Linked DNA regions of Homo sapiens: region 2 is linked to region 1. Evidence: fine-mapped expression QTL. A gene starts in region 1. The other region holds a variant in brackets. All regions are shown on one strand. Distances are from middle to middle. Region 1 holds the start of NUDT12 (nudix hydrolase 12). Region 2 overlaps LINC02115 (long intergenic non-protein coding RNA 2115).

Region 1 (10,291 bases):
TGCCCAGATCCACCAGAGGAATCCCTATATATGACAGCCATAGTCTTACAAAATGTATTTCTTTAATAATAAGTCTTGAAAGTCAAAATTACTCCTTGATTTGTGGGCTGCAGAATGTTGTGCCAGCAAGTATGAAAACAACATTAATTTCCCTGTAAATCTCCATCAGAGCCCTTCAGTGACCAGATACATTATCAATTAACAGTAATATTTTGAAAGGAATCTTTTTTTTTTTTTTTTTTTTTTTTTTTTTCTGAGACAGAGTCTCGCTCTGTCACCCAGGCTGGAGTGCAGTGGTGCGATCTCTTGGCTCACTGCAACTTCTGCCTCCTGGGTTTGCGCCATTCTCCTGCCTCAGCCTCATTCTCCTGCCTCAGCCTCCTGAGTAGCTGCAACTTCAGGTGCCCGCTACCATGCCCGGCTACTTTTTTTATTTTTTTTTTAGTAGCGACAGGGTTTCACTGTGTTAGCCAAGATGGTCTTCATCTCTTGACCTCATGATCCGTCCGCCTCGGGCTCCCAAAGTGCTGGGATTACAGGTGTGAGCCACCGCGCCTGGCCCTGAAAGGAAACTTTTCTTCTGAGCAGTAGGTGGCCACGGTAGGCTTATTCAGTAAACCACTCTCTAAACAGATGTGCTGTCATTCAGGCTTTGTTGCTCCATTTAGAGAGCACAGGCAGGGTAGACTTACCATAATTCTTAAGGGCCCTAGGATTTTCAAAATTGTGAGTATTGGCTTCAACTTCAAGTCACCAGTTGCATTAGTCCCTAATAAGTGAGTCTGCCTGTCTTTTGAGGTTTTGAAGCCAGGCATTGATTTGTCACCTCTTGATATGGATGTCATGGGCGGCATCTTCTTCCAATAGGTGGCTGTTTTTTTCTACATTCAAAGTCTGCTGTTTAGTTTAGCTGCCTTCATCAATTCTCTTAGCAAGATCTTCTGGGTAACTTGCTGCAGCGTCTCCATCGCCACTTGCTCCTTCAACTTGCACTTTTATGTCATGAAGGAGGCTTTTTTCCTTAAACCTCATGAACCAACCTCTGCTAGATGCCGACTTTTCTTCTGCAGTTTCCTCACTTCTCTCGGTCTTCATACAACTGAAGAGAGTTAGGACTTTGCTCTGGATAAAGCTTTGGCTTAAGGAAATATTATGCCTGGTTTAATCTTCCACCCAGACCACTAAAACCTTCTCCATATCAGCAATAAAGCTGTTTCACTTTCTTACCATTCATGTGTTCACTGGAGTAGTACTTTTAATTTCCTTCAAGAACTTTTCCTTTGCCTTTATAACTTGGCTAACTCTTTGGTGCAAGGGGCTTTGCTTTTGGCCTGTCTTGTCTTTTGACATGCCTTTCTTACTAAGCTTAATAATTTCCAGCTTCTGATTTAAAATGTGTGAGAGATGTGTGCGTCTTCCTTTCACTTGAACACTTAGGGGCCACTGTAGGGTTATTAATTGGCCTAATTTCAATATTGCTGTATCTCAGGGAATAGGGAGGCCTGAGGAGAGGGAGAGAGATAAGAATAGCCAGTGGATGGAGCAGTGAGAACACACACAACGTGTATTGATTATGTTTGCCAACTTATATGGGTGCAGTTTGTGGCAATCCAAAACAATTACAATAGTAACATCAAAGATTACTGATCACAGATCACCATAACAGATATAATAATGAAAAAGTGTGAAATATTGCAAGAATTACAAAATGTGATAGACATACAAAGTGAACACGTTGTTGGAAAAGTGGCACCTATATACTTGCTTGCCACAAGGTTGTCATAAACCTTCAATTTGTAAAAAATGTACTATCTGTGAAGTACAGTAAAGCAAAGTGCAATAAAACAAGGCACGTTTGTATACTTACCTGAAGGATATTAGGGAACTAACTAATTATTCTGAAGATTAGGAAATAATGGTGAAAATCGCACATTTATCCTATCTTTCCATATAAGCTGTATAGATATTTAATTAGATGAAGTTCTTTATTATAAAATAATTTGTTAGTAAATGTAGAGTGAATATCAAATTAGAATATCACTATTTGCAACTCATAACAAAATGATGGATGCAGGCAATAATCATGAATGGCTGCTAAAACTATTAGCTGAAAAGTTGATGGAAAAATTTATAATATATTTATCATAAATTTAATATTTAAATAATATAATTATATTTATCATAATTATATATCAATGTCATATATTTATCATAAACATTTACCATATTTTTATAATATTTATATTATTATTTATCATACATGTTATCAGGTTGACAACATCTGAACCCAATGATCAAGTATAACATTAAAAAAAGAGAGACAACCAGAAGTTGTAAGCCTCTTGAAGTAATTCAATACAAAGTAAACTGTAACACCTATAAAGTCTTTTGTGAAAAAAAATCAAACTTTAATCTGAGTAATTCTATAAAGTTAACTACCAGTTTGCAAGAAATACAGGGGGAAAGGACAGCACAGGAATAAAATCTGCAAAATTCAGAATGTGGAAAATTCTACAGAACAAATGATCATTACTCTTTAGTAAATAAACTGCCAGAAAAAAAGGGGAAGAGGAAGGAATCCATAGATTTTTAAAAATCAAATGTGATGTGGAGACTTTGTTCAGATGAATCAACTGAAAAACATATAAAACTTCTGAGGCAAGTGAGTAAATTTGATATTGAATGTTTCTTTTATGTTATTACAGAATTATTGTTAAATTTGTAATACTAGGGATATTGAAGTTGTGTTGTTTTTCAAAGCCCTTATATTTTAGATATAATACATATTTCCAAAAAGTTTACTCTTAAATATTTGTCATCAAAACAATATGGGGTCTGGAATTTACTTCAAAACAATCCTAACAACTGGGAGAACTATATATTAATAGTTGTTGACTCTGGATCATTAATACACGAGGGTTCACTATACTAATCTAACATATGTTTGAATGCAAAGATTGGGTACTCCAAGTGAAGTAACTAATCCTTTCTGACCACCTGTCTGGTCACTGAAATCATTAAAGGCTGAAAACAACTAGTCACATAAAGAAGCATAGGGCGGCCGGGTGCAGTGGCTCGCGCCTGTAATCCCAGCACTTTGGGAGGCCAAGGCGGATGGATCACCTGAGGTCAGGAGTTCCAGACCAGCCTGGCCAACATGGCAAAAACCTGTCTCTACTAAAAATACAAAAATTAGCTGGGCCTGGTGGCGCACACCTGTAATCCCAGCTACTCGGGAGACTGAGGCAGGAGAATCACTTGAAACCCCGGGAGGCGGAGGTTGCAGTGAGCCAAGATCGCACTACTGCACTCCAGCCTGGGTGACAGAGTGAGAACCCATCTAAAAAAAAGAAAAAAAAAAAAAAAACAGCAGCACAGGGCGTTAGAAGCCCTCATGATCAATGTCAACTGGTGCATACAGCTTCACAGTGAGAAGGAGCTTCCAAGGGTAAAATCTGGGTGGGAAACAGTGATCAATTGTAAGAGACCCCTGTAGCTGTTGCTGATTACCAAGGAGAGAGTTTAGTAAAGGAAAAAGCCCTGGTCTGGAAGTTAGAAGACCGCCAACACCTAGTTTTGTAATCTCGGACTCATAACTTCTGTAGGTTTTGGAGCATAAAAGCACAGGAACTGAAATAAAAAATAACGACAATAATTTTGTTGTGGGTGCCCACTCTGCACTTCACAACATCCTAAGAGCTTTGGATACATTATCCTATTTACACCTCACAACCCAAGGAGGTGTTTTGCGCGCTTGATACATACTTTTTAAAGGACTACTGAATAAGTTAGGCGTCAGTATATGATACCAGTTTTCCCATGGGGTGAATGATTAAGGTGTTACAGAGGCCGAATATCTCGTTTAAGAGTGACTTGGTCTAGTCAATAGTCCAGGATTATTTAACAGGAAAGAATGCTTTGAGCACTCAATTGCATTGGACTGTATTGGAGAGAGGGCTAGGAGTTGGGTGGGAGACGCTGGAAAATTTAAAATCGTTTCCTTAGGCCTACAGTTTTCCGATCGCCTGCACCACGTTCTATCTACACATCACAGTCTCAGGAGAAGGATTTTCAGCCCTTCATTCAGCTCCAATCCTTTAGACCGCGATCTCTCCCGCGCCGGCTCCCAAACACTTCCACCCCCAATCTCCACCCCTTCTCCCTTGCGCACAACCTGTGGGCTTCAAACTACATCTCCCATAAAACCGCGGGGGCCCCCCTCCCGCCCCCCCCCCACCCCCGGATCTCCACCGGAAGTCGGGAAGACTGCATCCGGCTCCAGGAAAAGCGAGTGGGATATCCCAATCTTTGGACTGCATCCTGGTTGCCTCTACTGTGGTCACCTTTGGGTTAGTAGAAGCAGTGGGGAGTTAGTCGTCTCATTGCCTCCTCTGGGGGCGGTGACCACTTCCCTGGGCTCTTTGGTTCCCGCGCTGCCCTGCGTGGCCCTGCTGAGTTGTGTGGCGGAGCCTCGTAGTGGTTTGGTGGGCGCAGGCGCGGGAGCCACGGACGCATTTGCAGGGGCTCCCGCGACAGGGCGGAGGTGCGGCGGTACTGAGGTCGTAGAGTTTCCTGCCCAAGCTGAGATGGGGAAAAGGAAGCGCTACTTAGGGTGTGATTTCACCTCGAAAGAAGGAATCTCACAGTAGTGGCAAGAAAGTAAAATATCTTAAGGCATTTTACCATTTTCAGAGACCGTGCACGGGTGGCACTTAATTGGTCTTGAGTGCCCAGGGAGTGGATGAAATTCGTTAATTGATGGTCAGTGATTTCAGTGACAGAGCGATATTTAAGGTCCTGTCCTGTCCCATTCGGTCTGTGTGAGCATGCGGAAGTCATGGGCCCCGGGTTACATGTCAGTAAAAGTGGATGTTGGTTTGTTAAAAATTTATGTCCCTTTACATCTAATATTCTTTTAAATGATTTCTCGGAATAGTCCTTGAGCTTCTTGGAAAACAAGGGCAGCACTTTATTCTGCCTTCAAATCTTTACCTTCTATAACCTGTCAATGAGAATTGAAAAAGTAAATCAAACAGTAGAATTGGGTGTTAGACTTTATGTGCTTCTCTGGAATGAATAATGGTACTATTTCTAGATGGCTTTTCTGCTGAGAAAGCTAGAGGGAAAAGTGTACACTTTCCACTTCCCATCTCCACAGAATAGCATATGCATAAGCATTGCCCTGGAGGTAGTGAATGACGCTGTATTTTTGAAGGACAATTTTGCAGTTACCTGGCGCGGCCTGTGAGAATGTGAGGGAGTGACGGTGACCCCAGAACATGAGACAGTGAAATATTATTCAAACTAAACCTAGCTGAAAAAACTATAATATGGGTTTTTGGAAAATAAACTTAAGAGAAAGACAATTTGGAAGGGAGATCAGTACAGGAGCTGTACAGCAGTGCTTCAAAATAAAGTCCTGAAAATTTGTAGCTTTTGTTATGCATAGTATTTTTAACGTATGTAGAAATTTCAATATGAAAGGAACAGCGAAGTAAATTCTAGAATAAATCAAAAATTATTCTGTCATGTAGATATTACTTCTGGTAATTTAATTTCTAAACAGATTTCCACTGTTAGGTTTCATCCAAGTGTTTCCATGACTGTGAGCAGTTTTAACCTATTTATAAGTAGCAGAAAGACACAAATAGGAAAGGTGAACAGCTCCAAAATGAGACAATTAATCTTTACTCCTTGTTTTCCCTAAATTTTGTTCATACTATTCCTGCTATGCAATTCATCAGCCAGATCGCCCTTTCAGAACCCAGGAGACAGCAGCTATCAAAAACTATGGGCTATAACCTTTCTGTCTTTTTAGCTTAAAAATCTTATTGCTTAGAATGATAGAAATGTTGTTAGAATCCCAAATCTTTTCTTAATAGCATTTCATAGAAAGAAGAATTATACCTTAAAAAAAAATACTTTGAGAAGTTCACAGACAGTTGAATCATGAACCATTTTCACCATCCCCCGCCGCCAAAAAAAAAAAAAGACAAAAAAAGCTCAGTGTGTGCTCTATCATCTGCAGTCCATGATTAGGCAATATTTAAGAGGTATGGAACAATTATTTCAGGGTTTACCCCACCGAAACAAAAAGGTGACAAAGCAGATAAAGTTAATGAGTTTTAAAAGCTGCTCTGATTCAAGGACAACAAAGTGACCAACAGAACTGTCCAATAATAGAACCAAAAATATATGATCATCTGATTTGTGACAATATTTGTCTCAGTGTAGTAGGACAAAGATGGTAATTTCAAGAATAATACGGAGTAATATGGATTATGCATTGGGTAAAAAAGTATCTTGACCCCTACCTCATGCCATGAACAAAAATAGATCCTAGATGGATTACAGAATTAATTGTGCAAGGTCAAACAATAAACTGTTTTCCTGTGAAACTTATAAAGTCTCTGCCTTTACTTCCATCTGTTTTAATGCTCTCCCCCTCATGTCCCCACCCATCGTGAAGTCCCCTCTGGTCTACCCTAAATACCTCCTCCTTATGTAATATGTTACCTGGTTCCCCCTCCCAAGGATATGGCCCCCTCGTCTGTACTGTCAGAGCTCTTTATTCATTATTTTGTGTAACTCCCATGGGCATATAAATTGCGTTGCATTTTATAATTCTAAACTGATAACATTTTGAAATTGAAATGTATGCTGTTTAAGGATTGCCTGTTGAATAGTATGTTGCCTTGGAAACCATTGCTATTATTCTATTGCTATTTATCAATATTGTTCATTGATAAAAAAGCAGTTGCAAATAAGCTTTTTCCCCTGATTTTCCTTCTTTTAAGGAAGAAATGTCTTCTGTAAAAAGAAGTCTGAAGCAAGAAATAGTTACTCAGTTTCACTGTTCAGCTGCTGAAGGAGATATTGCCAAGTTAACAGGAATACTCAGTCATTCTCCATCTCTTCTCAATGAAACTTCTGAAAATGGCTGGACTGCTTTAATGTATGCGGCAAGGAATGGGCACCCAGAGATAGTCCAATTTCTGCTTGAGAAAGGGTAAACATTTTAGGCTGTACCACCTGAAAGGGTTTGTGGTTTAATTTCTTTGTTACATATTTACTTTAAAATTTTGCTTGTTTCCATATTTATATTGTTGAACTACTAAATAACTCATTGGCTAATTTATGTAAAAATGTAGCACAATTTTTCTAACTTAAAACTTTGTAACCTTTTTCATTGAGAAATTATTTCTTTATAGCAAAGCAAATTTATGAGGAGTCTAATTATAAATTTTCCTCCCAAATAGAAAATGCAGATCTCACTATGACTACCAAGGACTTCTTGTAGAATTTTGGTATCTCTTTATAGTGCATAAAGCTTAATACTGTTTTATTTTGTGAGTAATTATCCAGAAAGTGTAAGTATCCACTGTCTCTTAACTTTTTGTCATTTATGATTGTTCTTTTAACCTTCCCAATAGTAAACTATGTAACAAAAGAAAAAAAATCTATGTAATCATTAAAAAGAAGGACTTTAATATGTATCTGGAAATATTTTAGTGAAATAAATACGGAGAAAGTGTTTACTTCCTATTTTACTTTTTCTCCCCAATTTTTTCTTCCATCTATAGGTGTGACAGATCAATTGTCAATAAATCAAGGCAGACTGCACTGGACATTGCTGTATTTTGGGGTTATAAGCATATAGCTAATTTACTAGCTACTGCTAAAGGTGGGAAGAAGCCTTGGTTCCTAACGAATGAAGTGGAAGAATGTGAAAATTATTTTAGCAAAACACTACTGGACCGGAAAAGTGAAAAGAGAAATAATTCTGACTGGCTGCTAGCTAAAGAAAGCCATCCAGCCACAGTTTTTATTCTTTTCTCAGATTTAAATCCCTTGGTTACTCTAGGTGGCAATAAAGAAAGTTTCCAACAGCCAGAAGTTAGGCTTTGTCAGCTGAACTACACAGATATAAAGGATTATTTGGCCCAGCCTGAGAAGATCACCTTGATTTTTCTTGGAGTAGAACTTGAAATAAAAGACAAACTACTTAATTATGCTGGTGAAGTCCCGAGAGAGGAGGAAGATGGATTGGTTGCCTGGTTTGCTCTAGGTATAGATCCTATTGCTGCTGAAGAATTCAAGCAAAGACATGAAAATTGTTACTTTCTTCATCCTCCTATGCCAGCCCTTCTGCAATTGAAAGAAAAAGAAGCTGGTAAGAAATGAATGCTGCTTTTCATTGGTAAAATCTGGTTTTTAGACTTGAGTTGGAGTTGTATGTATTTGCACTTTCCAGGGGCACTCTTTTTCCAGTAAGCAGTGAAATTAGACTGTCTTCATCAGAAACTTCTTAAAGTTCTCACCCTAGGGGACTACTCTCCTGGGCAGTTAGTAGTTCTAATCAGCCCAGACTGATTTCCTGAGAATTAACCCTGGTGCATGATGATCTCATTTGATTCTTCATTGAATAATTCTTAGTTCCTGCTACACGTAGAACATGATGGCAAAGACTTTGACTGTTTTGTTTTGTATTCTGTTGATGGGGCTTTTTATGGCATGGTAAGAAATTGGGGTTTGATTCTAAAGCCATTTAAATGTAACCTAACCTGTGTTTAAAATATTTTTTTAAAAAAGACACTGCACACTGGCTGCATCATAGAGCATAAATTGTACACATGTAAGTAAGTAAGTGTGAAAGTTGGGAGTCTTGTTAAGAGGGAATTGAGTATTACAGGTGCCCAAGTAAGAGATTGCAATGGCTTGAGTTAGAATGGAGGCAGTGGAGATGGAGACAAAGGGAGAATCTGAGGTATTCTCGAGGTAGAAGGGATAGGGCTTGATCTGTAGGTTGAGACCCTTATAAGTGAGAGATGGTGGTAATATGGCATGAATTAAGGTACTGATAGTAGAAATGGAGGAAAGAGGGTATATGCAAGATAAAGTTTGGAGAGAAAATCACTGGTCTTTGCTATTGAATTGGATATGGGATATATAATAATGAAGGAAAAGATTAAGAATGACTGCTAGGCTAGAGACTTTAATAATTTGGTATATAGTGATACCATTTCTCAATAATATAGGATGATGGTTAGAGCAAGGAAAGCAGGACAGACTTGGATTAAAAAAATCAAGAGTTTACTTTTGGGCATACTAAGTTTTAGAAATGGACATTACAATCAGATGTCTGAACTGGAAATACCCATATGGCAGTCATCAACACACAGATACTTAAATCCCAAAAAACTACTGAGATTACTTGGAGAGTTGAGAGGAAGCAAGAAAAACTCAGAATAAGACCTGAATCCCCCTAAATTTAAAGGTAAGCTGCAAGCAGGAGAGCCATCAAAGGAGTTGGAAACAGTGTGGCCATGAGGTAGGAAGAGAGCAAGAGGCCTCAGGGAAACCAAGACAGCAGAGTATTTCCAGGAGGGAGTGGTCAAATGTATTGAATGCTGTTATGAACTTGAGTAAGATGAAGGCAAAGTGGTTTTTTTGTTTTGTTTTGTTTTTTAAAGCATCTTTGTCTTTGGTAATATGAAGCTATTGATGAACTTGACAAGAGAAACGTCAGTGGAGTGAAACGAACAGAAACCAGATTATGGTAGACTGATGAGTTACTGGGAAGTTAGGAATAGGTCACTTGTCAGTGACCACCTTCCCTTAGGTGATAGAGGTCCTTCCAGAGACTGCTTAAATATCTCCTCCTCAAAGTCTGGTGTGGTATGTTTTATTCTCCACACCTGTGGAGAAATCATCAAACTTTTTTAAGAAAATTTATTTTCTTTAGACATATATATATATATATATATATATCATTTTAAGATCAAAAAGATCTGATAAATGAGCTAGTTGCTTGCTTTTTTCCCTTGTAGGAAAACTGAGGCCTTTTAACTCACTTGCTCTATAAGTTTACACAGTTACTTAACTTTTCTGTGACTCAGTTTACTCCTAAAGAAAATGATAATAATAGTATCTATCTTCTTTAGGGTTGCTCTAAACATTAAATAATCTATATAAAATTCCTTGCATGGTGCTTGGCACATTGTAAGTACTCAATAAATGTTAGCTTTTCTTATTGTGATGATTCTGAAATAATGTAAATACCCTAGTGTAAGTTACATATTACAAGGTTACGTAGCAGGCAAAAACGTAATGTTGTCTATTCATTACAACTGTTTTATTTATTTTTCCCAGTTTAAACGATGTTAGAATTTTTGTTATTATTTTGTTCATTTCAAAAATCTGTAGACCAAATAATCTATTTTAGGGAGGGTAACTTTGTCAAGCATTTAACATATAGCATTTCTAGTCTTATTGCCTCAACTGTAATATT
Region 2 (10,291 bases), 33 kb after region 1:
TTTCAACCATAGAAGACGGCCGCACCCAAGGGGGCCATTTTAGAGGTCTACCCTCAGGGATGCATTCTCTTTCTCAGGGATGTCCTTGCTGAGAAAAAGAATTCAGCGATATTTCTCCCATTTGCTTTTGAAAGAAGAGAAATATGGCTCTGTTCCACCCGGCTCACCGGCGGTCAGAGTTTAAGGTTATCTCTCTTGTTCCCTGAACATTGCTGTTATCCTGTTCTTTTTTCAAGGTGCCCAGATTTCATATTGTTCAAACACACATGCTTTACAAACAATTTGTGCAGTTAACGCAATCATCACAGGGTCCTGAGGCGACATACATCCTCCTCAGCTTACAAAAATGACAGGATTAAGAGATTAAAGTAAAGACAGGCATAAGAAATCACAAGGGTATTGATTGGGGAAGTGAAAAGTGTCCATGAAATCTTCACAATTTATGTTCAGAGATTGCAGTAAAGACAGGCATAAGAAATTATAAAAGTATTAATTTTGGGGAACTAATAAATGTCCATGAAATCTTCACAATTTATGTTCTTCTGCCATGGCTTCAGCCGGTCCCTCCATTTGGGGTTCCTGGCTTCCCACAACAGCGCCCCCCTCTGCCATGATCCAATCACCTACCACCAGGTCTCTCCTTCAACATCTGGGGATTACAATTCAAAATGAGATTTGGGTGGGGAATTTGACAAAGCCTAACCATATTGCCAAGGCATCTATACCACGTGTGTCTGCTCAAAGAGAGAGCTTACTTAATTAGTGGTTTGCCACCATTAGTGAGATTCAGGAAGCACGGATGGTCTGGGTCCCAGTTTTTCACATACCGAATTGAGAGCTTTGGATGAGATAATCTTGAAAACTTCTAGACATTCTAGCGCAAAAATAATGTATGGTTTGGTCAGCTTTATTGAAGCCCTCACCTGCAGCTCTGATAAGATGGCAAGTCTCCCAAAGCCAGCCACTGCTCAGCTCTAATTAAGGGTATATTTTAATTGTTATGTATATATACTGTAACGGAGGTTAATAGCAAGTACCATTTCACTGGAACCATTGATAATGTTTTCAGTTGTGTTTATTCAAGACAACTTTGTAAGTTAAATTTTGTTAGCATTTCTATCTTAGAGGTAAAGGAAATTCAGCCTCACAGATATGACACAACCTGCTGAGTGAGCAGCAGAGCCATGGTACAGACCCAGATATTCTGAGTCAAAGTCAAGTGCTCTCAACTAAACTCAGTGCAGCAGGCTACATTTTTCTGTTTAAACTATGTGAAACCATTGAGAAATAATCACTAACCTAGTCATGTGCTTTTAAAAAAAGTATTTATTTATTTGGCCCTGTAATTGTACAAATTTATAAGGTACAATTTAATATTTCAGTACATAGCTATGTTGTGTAATGATCCAATCAAGGTAGTTAGTGTGTCCATTACATCATGCATTTATCATTTCTTTGTGGTGAGAACATTCAAAAAGCCTCTCTTCTAGCTGTTTTGCAATATGCAATGTTTTCCTGTTAACCACAGTCACCCTAGTGTGCAACAGAACACCAGAATTCATTGGTTCAATCTAATTGAGACTTTGAACCCGTTGACCAACTGCTCCCCACCTTCCTAACCCCTTCTTCTCCCCAATCTCTGATAACCACTGTTCTACTCTCTGCTTCTATTATATCAACTTTTTTTTTTTAAAGATTCCACATATGAATGAGATCACATGGTATTTGTCCTTCTGTGTCTGGCTTATTTCATTTAACATGACGTCCTCCAGGTTTATCCATGTAGTCACAAATAGCAGGATTCCATTTGTTATGGCTGAATAATATTCCATTATGTATATATACCACATTTTCTTTCTCCATTTGTTGTTAGACACTTACGTTGATTCCATATCTTGACTTGTGATAGCTATACAATAAAACATGGGAGTGCAGATATCTCTTTGAAATACTTATTTCATTTCCTTTGGATACATACTCAGTAGTTGAATTACTGGATCCTATGGTAGTGTTTTTTTTAAATTTTTTGAGTAACCTCCATACGTTTTTCTATACTATCTATACCTAGTCAAATGCCTTTGAAGCGTTTTTAAATTAGAAAACCCAATATGTGTAAGACAGGGATAAAAAAAGAAAGATATTAAATTGTGCATTTGTAATCCTCTGCGCAACCCAATCCCCACATTGGCCTTCTAAGAAGAGTGGATTACTGCTCACCTCATCAGCCACAGGAATGTAGTTTTGCTTATTGCAGGAGAATGTAGACAGGTTAATTGAAAGATGCCAAGAGAGTATCAATTGCTCTATATAAGAAAGGCAGCCTAGGGAAGCAGAATTTTCAGAAAATTAAGAGATTTGGAGAGGCTATGGAATAAAAAGTATTTTAAATCAACAGATATTATGACTTGGAGGAGAGAGATGAGTTATGAAGAATTTTAATAAATTTTTGCCAAAACTAGCCGCAAAGCAACCTGATTTTACATAAAACAAATAAGAGTCAAGCTTTTTGACTGAGGTGTCCAAAGACACAGCCTGGCCAAATACACCTAAAGCAAACTGCCTCCATGGGAAACTATTTCCTTTTCATCTTTACAGACAGATTAATTCTTTTAAAGTAAAGCAATTAGAATCAGGCTTAGCTCTGAGCACAGGCAGGTGCCTGCTTGAGGTGATAATTGGGAAATTAGGAGATGGCCTTCCCGCAGATGCCTTCTCCAACATCTTCTATTAGTTAAGACATCATCAACAGAGAATATAACCCTTTCTTTCACAGTTAAGGTAAAGAATTTGGTCTTCTACAATGAATTACCAACTCTACCAATATGTTTACTCAGTCATAATATTTAAATATGGTTATATATAATGACAGTGTAATGAAGGCAAACCATCTCCCTACCCCACTTAATTTTTAGCAGGGCTACAAATTTCATAATATTGGATTTAGGCTAACTTTACAAAAAATTGTGTGTTTCTATTAATATAGGAAACAATGAAACATAAAAATAATTAAACAATATGCATCAACTTGCATCCTAAATGTCTACAAATACGAATATATGTGTATATGTTTTACATATCTATATGTTTGAATATTCATTTATATGCACATGTACATATATATCTAACAATGCACTAAATAGTTGAGATGGAACTAAACAAAAAAGGTTAATGTAATTACAACAATAAAATATATTTAAAGGAAAAGCATGTGGGGATACCACAGACAGATACCCATGCTATCAAGTTGGCAAGTGAGTTGAGTTACTCAGTAATTTGACTAAACCTAAATTCTGATGGGAAAATAATTTCAAATTTATTTGCTGTTTTCAAAGGGCAGTGAAAACTGAAGACCCACAACTCCCCAAAATGATGAGGAAAAGAAGAAAAGGCTGTAAAAAATGGGAAATCTTGAATACCACAGTATGTAAGTCCAATTCAATGATTTTCTAAGTATGTAAAAAATGAACTGCTTAGTTTATGTACTTTCTTCTTTATCACAGGACTGTCTATAAAACTAGGAAGATAAAAACATATAAAATGATTTTGAAGCTTGGTCTATAGTTACTATTTATATACTTCTGCATTAATGATATGTATTATAACTAATAAAAATCTAAATAAAAATATTCAGATATGGACTATTAGGACCCATTATTCTTAGAATCTGTTATCAATGCATTATTATGTAACTTTCTCTGCTCTATATCCCTTTTTGCAGAAATTAAAATGTAGTCAATTCAAAGGGGCTATAAAATATAAAATTATAAAATTGAAAGGGGTATAAACAGAATGGCTCTTGGCATGAAGATGTTATTTAAAGAATAAAGTCCAGTTCTGGAAGGCAGTCCATCAGTCTATAAACTGTTATTGTGTCCATGGTCTATTGTAAATGGCCTTTAGAGAGATAGGTCTCCATGTCTTTTCTCTTATGACTTCCACATTACAGAGCTCAGATTGTGACCAGGCCCACTGGAAACTGTTTCAGTACCTGACAAGAGAGACCTTCCTACAGGCTAGAAGAGAGGCAAATGGGAATGGTTAGACTCCTCAAGTGATCTCAGTATGCTCGATGCTGTTCTTTTTCCTGTTGAAGAGAATTTATTCTCTATATAAGTATTTATATAATTATAAGCATTTTATGTAAAAATTTATAAGTATAAATAAAAATCATTTTAAGTTAAAAACATTTAAAATAAATGTATAAATAATCCATTCCAATTTTAAACTTAACTTTTTAAAAATGTCCTTTTTGACACCTGGTTCATCAATCTTTATGATATAAGTATTCACTTGTTGCCTATTCTTCTTTCTTAACAAATAATCTCAGATGTAGTTTAAAATAGAATTTGAGATATTTTTGTCCACTGTTTTTTACACAAGCTCTGGTGCCTCATGCTCAGGTTCACAAGCTTCTCATAGGAATGTATTTTAATATAAAACAGAGGAGTGCAGGTTGCAAGCTGGTAGTTCTTGGGCAAAAGCTGGTCCCTAAGTATACTGGCCTCCACCTATAGAGGGTTGTTGTTTTAAATTTTTGAACTAATCCTTAGAAATTAAGAAATTTTACAGTATAGGAAAAAATCCAGATTCTAGTTCTCTTCTGGAAAAATGAGATGATCCAGTAACACCAGGACACCTTTTCACGTGGCTGGAGCTGACTAGCAGAGAATATGTATACCCAGCCTGCTTCACTTGTTTATGTTACCTGTTTAAATGCCACAGACTTTGAGTTTGTGAACCTATTCTATAAAAAGCCCAGGGCAAAGGATACTACTGGACATGTTTGAAAGTCTGTCTAAAAGCATACTTATGTTTCTTCCATTCTTTTTACCCACATCTTCATTTGTAGTACCATCTCAAATTGTATTGAGCTTGACTTAGCCTGTAGTATAATGCCATGTTCAAATACCTGATCATATAGCAAGCTGTTCTTTTTCAAGAGTTGCACTTAAAATTTAGTTGCATATGTTTCTTGTGAAATTTTCATTTCACCCACTTTTGCAAGTTGCTGTTTTAGAGTACAGCTTAATTAAATTCTTACTTCATAAAACTACTGGTGATATTTCTACACTCTAAGAGAATTGGTTGATTTAAAGTGATGTATTTATTATAAATGAACTTTTGTGAAAAACATTTTGACATGCTATAAATGAATGAAAACCGATACCCAAAATACTTACAAAGGATTTGCATTGCATTTTATTCTAGAAATTGGAACATCTGTTCTCTAAATGAACACGTAAACCTTTCCAATTTTTATTTTTTTGCTTCCTCTTTAGGTGTATCTCAGCCTGCTGGCTGAGCATGCCAAGAAAATATAAAAGTTCTTGAAAAGGAAGTCAAAGGAGACACCTTGGAGCCTGTGTTTCATCAGACTGGGACATTAGGGAAATCTAAGGAAAATGGAGATGAGGGTATGTCTGCTTCTGTGAATGAAAAGCAGAATTCTTCTTTTCTTCCTAAAGATAAGAAACAGCATCCATGTGACAGCAAAATACATAGGAAGAAGGGAAATGATGATCCTCCTTTGGCTGTCTCTCATCAACTGGAGAAAGTCTTACCTATGATCACATTTAATGACTATGGAGAATCATTATCAGAAAACATTACATTACAGAATCTCCTAGGCACAGTAGAAGACTTTAAGCCAGCAAAAGGCAAATTTATTACAGAAGTGAAACGTGGGGATTTCAATGTGCAAATAGAAATCAAGAAAAACTTTGTCTGTAAACCAGGAATACAGTTCCCAACAAAAAAAGAGACATCCAAAATGTTGCCAGCGTTGCTCTATCAGACACATTCAGAGATGCTACCCTTCTAGGAGCTGCTTTCCTAAACATAAGAATATATTGGTGGAAGAACTAAAACCTGAGGTGCTGTCTAAACATGAAGGAGAAATTGCCAGAACCGACAG[A/C]CCCTTGCTGAAAGTAACCATTGAAAGAAAAGAAATTAAAGTCAACTACATGACTAAGACACAGAATATATTAATTAATATAACTCATCCTAAAAGAAAGGAAAAAAGTAACTAAATACAGAAACATTTCCTCCAATCACACCACTAAAGAAACTTTCAGGTCTCCCTCACAGTCTGGTATTAGGTATCCTGAAATGTGGCAGCTTGAAAACAAGCATCAGAGTTGAGATTGTTTGTGTGTCTCTTCTCCTGGCATGTGTGCTGTCGAGAAGGAGAAGAATTTTGATACAGTGGTGATTTATCTAACCTCGACTCTGGAGAGAAAGAAAAATAAGCCTGACACACTATCTACAGTCTTAGAAGACTGTGAGGTAGAATCTGCTATCTCTCGGCAGAAGGTCTTTAAAATTAGTCAGAACACCCCCAGAAAGAAACATTTCTCTGAGTCTAAGACTCTTCTCAAAAAAATTCTTCCTACTTCACATAATACCCAAAAGACCACAAGTTTAAGTACTGCAGATTTAAGTAAAATGCCTTTCGAGGATTCTAAGGATGTGGAAAAAGAGAGAAAAATCAACTTTGATATCCCAGGAAATATCACATCAGACTCACATGTACAGCAAAGCACAGAAGGAATAAATTATTTGCCAAGTACCATTACTGACATCTTTCCACTCAAGATGGCAAAAACTTCACCTTTAGTTCTTCATCTTCTGTGAGTATGTAGCTCACAGAAGCAAAGGTAGCCAACATCTACTGCAAAGGAAGCAAGACTCCACCTGCAGAATGCTGTGAGAACTCAAATTCTGTATCTTTCCCTCCCACTCAAACTTCTCTGCAGTCTTGCACCTCATTCAGCCCACCTCACTGGGCCACCAGACATTTGAAACCTAAGGAAAACCCTGAGAGTACATTTTCTTTTAATCATTGTGCTGAGTGTGTGATAGATTATGAGAAGGAGCAGATTAATGTGACTGACAGAGACTTTAACAAAGCCATTTTACATAGTGACTCTCATGCTAAAGCACAGCAACTACTGGAAAGGAAGATTACACTGTGTCTTAATCTCAGGCCTGCTTCTGGCAGCAGCCTAGCAGCTAAGAGCCCACGCAACGGTATTAGCCACAGCACTGTGGAATGGAACCAAACAGAGTCACAGCAAGTCATCCAGAGATAGCAGCCCCGACCAAAACAAAAGCACTAGTTATGACCTTCATAACTGATGAGTTAGAGCAAAAATTGATTATTCAAGATGATAAAGAAACTAGTTGTTTCTAATTGTCCCATGGGAATGAAAAACCGTAAAGAGTCACCCAGCTCTCTGGAAAATGTTGAAAAAGACAAATGCCAGATAATACCCGTGGTGAATAATGCATACCACAGAGATTTTGAAGACCTGTCAAATGAGAATCGTGACAAAGTCTGTTTTCAAATGCATTTTTCAGCAAACACTGCTGAGTCCAACTGTGCAGTGTGTGCTTCAGATAATCTGTTTCTTATTGAAAAAACACTGACCAATGATGTGGACCTACATGGTAACCAAGATAAAGAAAACCTTGGACTAACTAGTTTTAAACAGGAGCCAGCACAGTGCCAAAGGATTGCATCAACAGGGCCAAATACTGAAGAGGATGAGAACAAAAATGACTCAAAGGAAAATTACTGTTACCAAATACACACGTTGATGCCACCTCAGAAGCAAGCTTTGAAAGGTATGGTGGGCTATACAGAATCATTAACTTTCATTATTTTTTATATATTTTAGCTTTGGAAAGTCTTAAGATGAGGGCTTTTTTAAAATTGCTTGGGATGTTTTCTTTATTGCTAAAGATATATTATATATTTTAGAGTTAGATGAACACGGGCAAGCATATATCAGTCTGTTTCTTTACATTATCACCCACTCCACCCATAAATAGTGCATCTTCAAGCCTGCAGTTTAATGTAAAAAAAAAAAAAATCAATTTCTCTTTAAAAGGTTGATATATTGCCAAATCAATTTTGTAGGAAATGTTAGTCTTTGCCACTCTTAAATAATCCACCATTTCTTTCCTTCTTGCAAGCTAAGCATGTTCAGAAGAATAGGAAGAATATGTTTGTAATAAAATATATTTTTAAATCTTGCTGTGGTGTTACAGAGGCATTGTATGTATGTCTTGGAAGGCCATGTGGAATAGTAATTACAACAAAGGACAAAAAACAGAAACGACCTTGCCTAATCCTCACTGAGCCACCATGGGGCCTCTGACCTCCAGCAGACCTCTGACCTCCCTTGTGCATTACTTGGACCAAATTGTTGATAGAACCCAGAAGCTCTCCAGACCTCAAGTAGGGCCAAGATGGAAGTTCTTTCCTAAGTACATAATTCTGCCTGTCTGCTTTCAATCTCAAATCAGCACTATATCATTTTTGTCACTTCATAGAAGGCCCTTGTTTTTTTAAATGAGTCCAAATTATTTTATATTTAATGTTAGCATTATTCCATATTGTAAATTAAAATACATTTTGAATGAGTAAAAACTGTCTTCTAAACTGCTGGTAATAATCCTAATAGCTTCAGAAATTATATTTGGAATGATGAAACTTAAAGGAGAAGGTATATTTTCTTTGTAGTTCTGTCTCTAGATTTTTGAATGAAATTAGTAAAATTTAGAAGTAGAAATAAAATACAAAAAGCATAATCAATTACATAACTGTTAGAATAAAATGTGAAATTTGTTTTGTAGAGAGTAAATGCCCTAAAACAGTATGAAAACTCTATGGTCATCTGCTTGATATGAACACCCTAAAGCAAGGACCATCAGTCATGGGGACTGCTTCCTGGTGCCAACATCCATCCAGAAATCAGCATCAATGACATTAATCCCAACACTGACTTCAGTCTATAGTTATTTGGAACTGCAAGGGAACCTGCAGTAAGAACAACTGTGCCTCCCAAAGGAAACACATGCTCACCTGGATGAATATATCTCCCAAGTTGACTCTCCTTCCCCCAGAGGCATGTTCCTCCCTGTCCTACCTCTCCCAGCGGGAAACATTTCTTAAGAAAATCAATAATTCAAGTCAGAATTCTCTCAAAGCTGATATTACACATCAGAGTTTGAAACTGTCCCATTTGGTAAACAATTCCAGCTACTGGTTCCCTGTGTTACTGATTCATCAAAAGGCTATTCCTACAACTCTCTCCCTGTATCCTTTTCCTTGATCACTCTTCCAGCCATATTGACTTACTTCCTAGAACCTTCCAGCCCAGATCCACATCAGGCCCTTTGCATGGACTGCTCCCACTACTTGGACCAGTCTTCCCCTATATGTCTACATGGTTCATTCTCATCTCCTCATCTCCTTTAGATTTTTGCTCACACAGCATGTTCTCAGGAAGGTCTTCTCAGACCACTCCATTTAAAATTGCAAACTGAACCATCTTCATTACAGCCCAGGCAAACGCTATCCTTTTTCCATTTATACATAGCACTTTTTGCCTTCTAATCTGCTATATATTTTACTGGTTTATTTTTGTTTTGTTCTGTCTTCTTTCACTAGAATATAAGTTCCAGGAGGGCATGGATTTTTCCTGTTTTGATCATTGCTATATTCATAAAATTAGATAGTACCTGTCCTGTAGTATAGGTGCTCAAATATTTATTGAATGCAAAAATAAATGCAGGGAAGTCACATCAGATTTCTTTGAATAGTTCACATACCAAAACAAACAACAACAACAACAACAACAAAACCAGGAACATAGTTCAGCAGTTATAATATTAATACAAAATATTTGAATCTATAAATGTTTGCATAGATTTAACTCTCCTAGAACTATGAATATCTTTATACTTTATTCAACATTATTGTCTTCATATTACTGATATCTCAGGCTAGAACTGGGTAATTTTTTCAGGGAGTGTATTGCTTTGAGAAACTGGGATACTTTTGGACTGTTTTTACCAGAAAATTATAAAATTGATATAGGCACAAACTTACACTTACATTTTGAAAAGCGATCCTCTAACCCCTTAACATCCATGCATGTGCCTCAGATTCGGAGTCCCTGACATGAGTGTTCACTGTAATATTTGTGTAGTTCCTTCCACCATGTGTGTGCGTTTAGGAATCAACTAGATTAGACGTCACAATGTGAACTGTCTACAGGGGCCAGGCAGGTGATGTAAATGAGTAAAGCAGGCTGTATGTGAGCAAGTCTGGAGTGTTGGTGAACTAGCGAGTGTGTCCTAAGGGAAGGAAAACGCAGGTCCAGTACAGACAGGCCTTCTGACTTCCAAATAGCAGGAGACCTGGATTCTTTAATGTATGAGTCTGCAGATCATGAGATTTGGGAGACACAGTACAAAGTAAGCAATCTGTGACCTCTGAACT

The links. PIP is the estimated chance that this variant, and not a neighbour inherited with it, causes the effect.
Region 2: its variant is the best candidate, but not a certain one, in a credible set for the expression of NUDT12 in aorta (GTEx, PIP 0.75).

The regions. Positions count from the first base shown.
Region 1 is chr5:103,556,761-103,567,051 of GRCh38, reverse strand. It overlaps NUDT12 (nudix hydrolase 12), which reads left to right and starts at 4,263. Exons shown (of 7, transcript NM_031438.4): 1 at 4,263-4,349; 2 at 6,798-7,009; 3 at 7,584-8,173. The coding sequence starts at 6,804. RefSeq lists enhancers at 3,960-4,490, 4,491-5,023.
Region 2 is chr5:103,523,450-103,533,740 of GRCh38, reverse strand. It overlaps LINC02115 (long intergenic non-protein coding RNA 2115), which reads left to right. Exons shown (of 5, transcript NR_104670.1): 3 at 3,333-3,424; 4 at 3,947-4,037; 5 at 5,280-5,307. It also overlaps the pseudogene PDZPH1P. Among named protein-coding and RNA genes, the nearest start is that of LINC02115, 13 kb to the left of the region's middle. The variant A/C (reference allele first, on the strand shown) is at 5,915.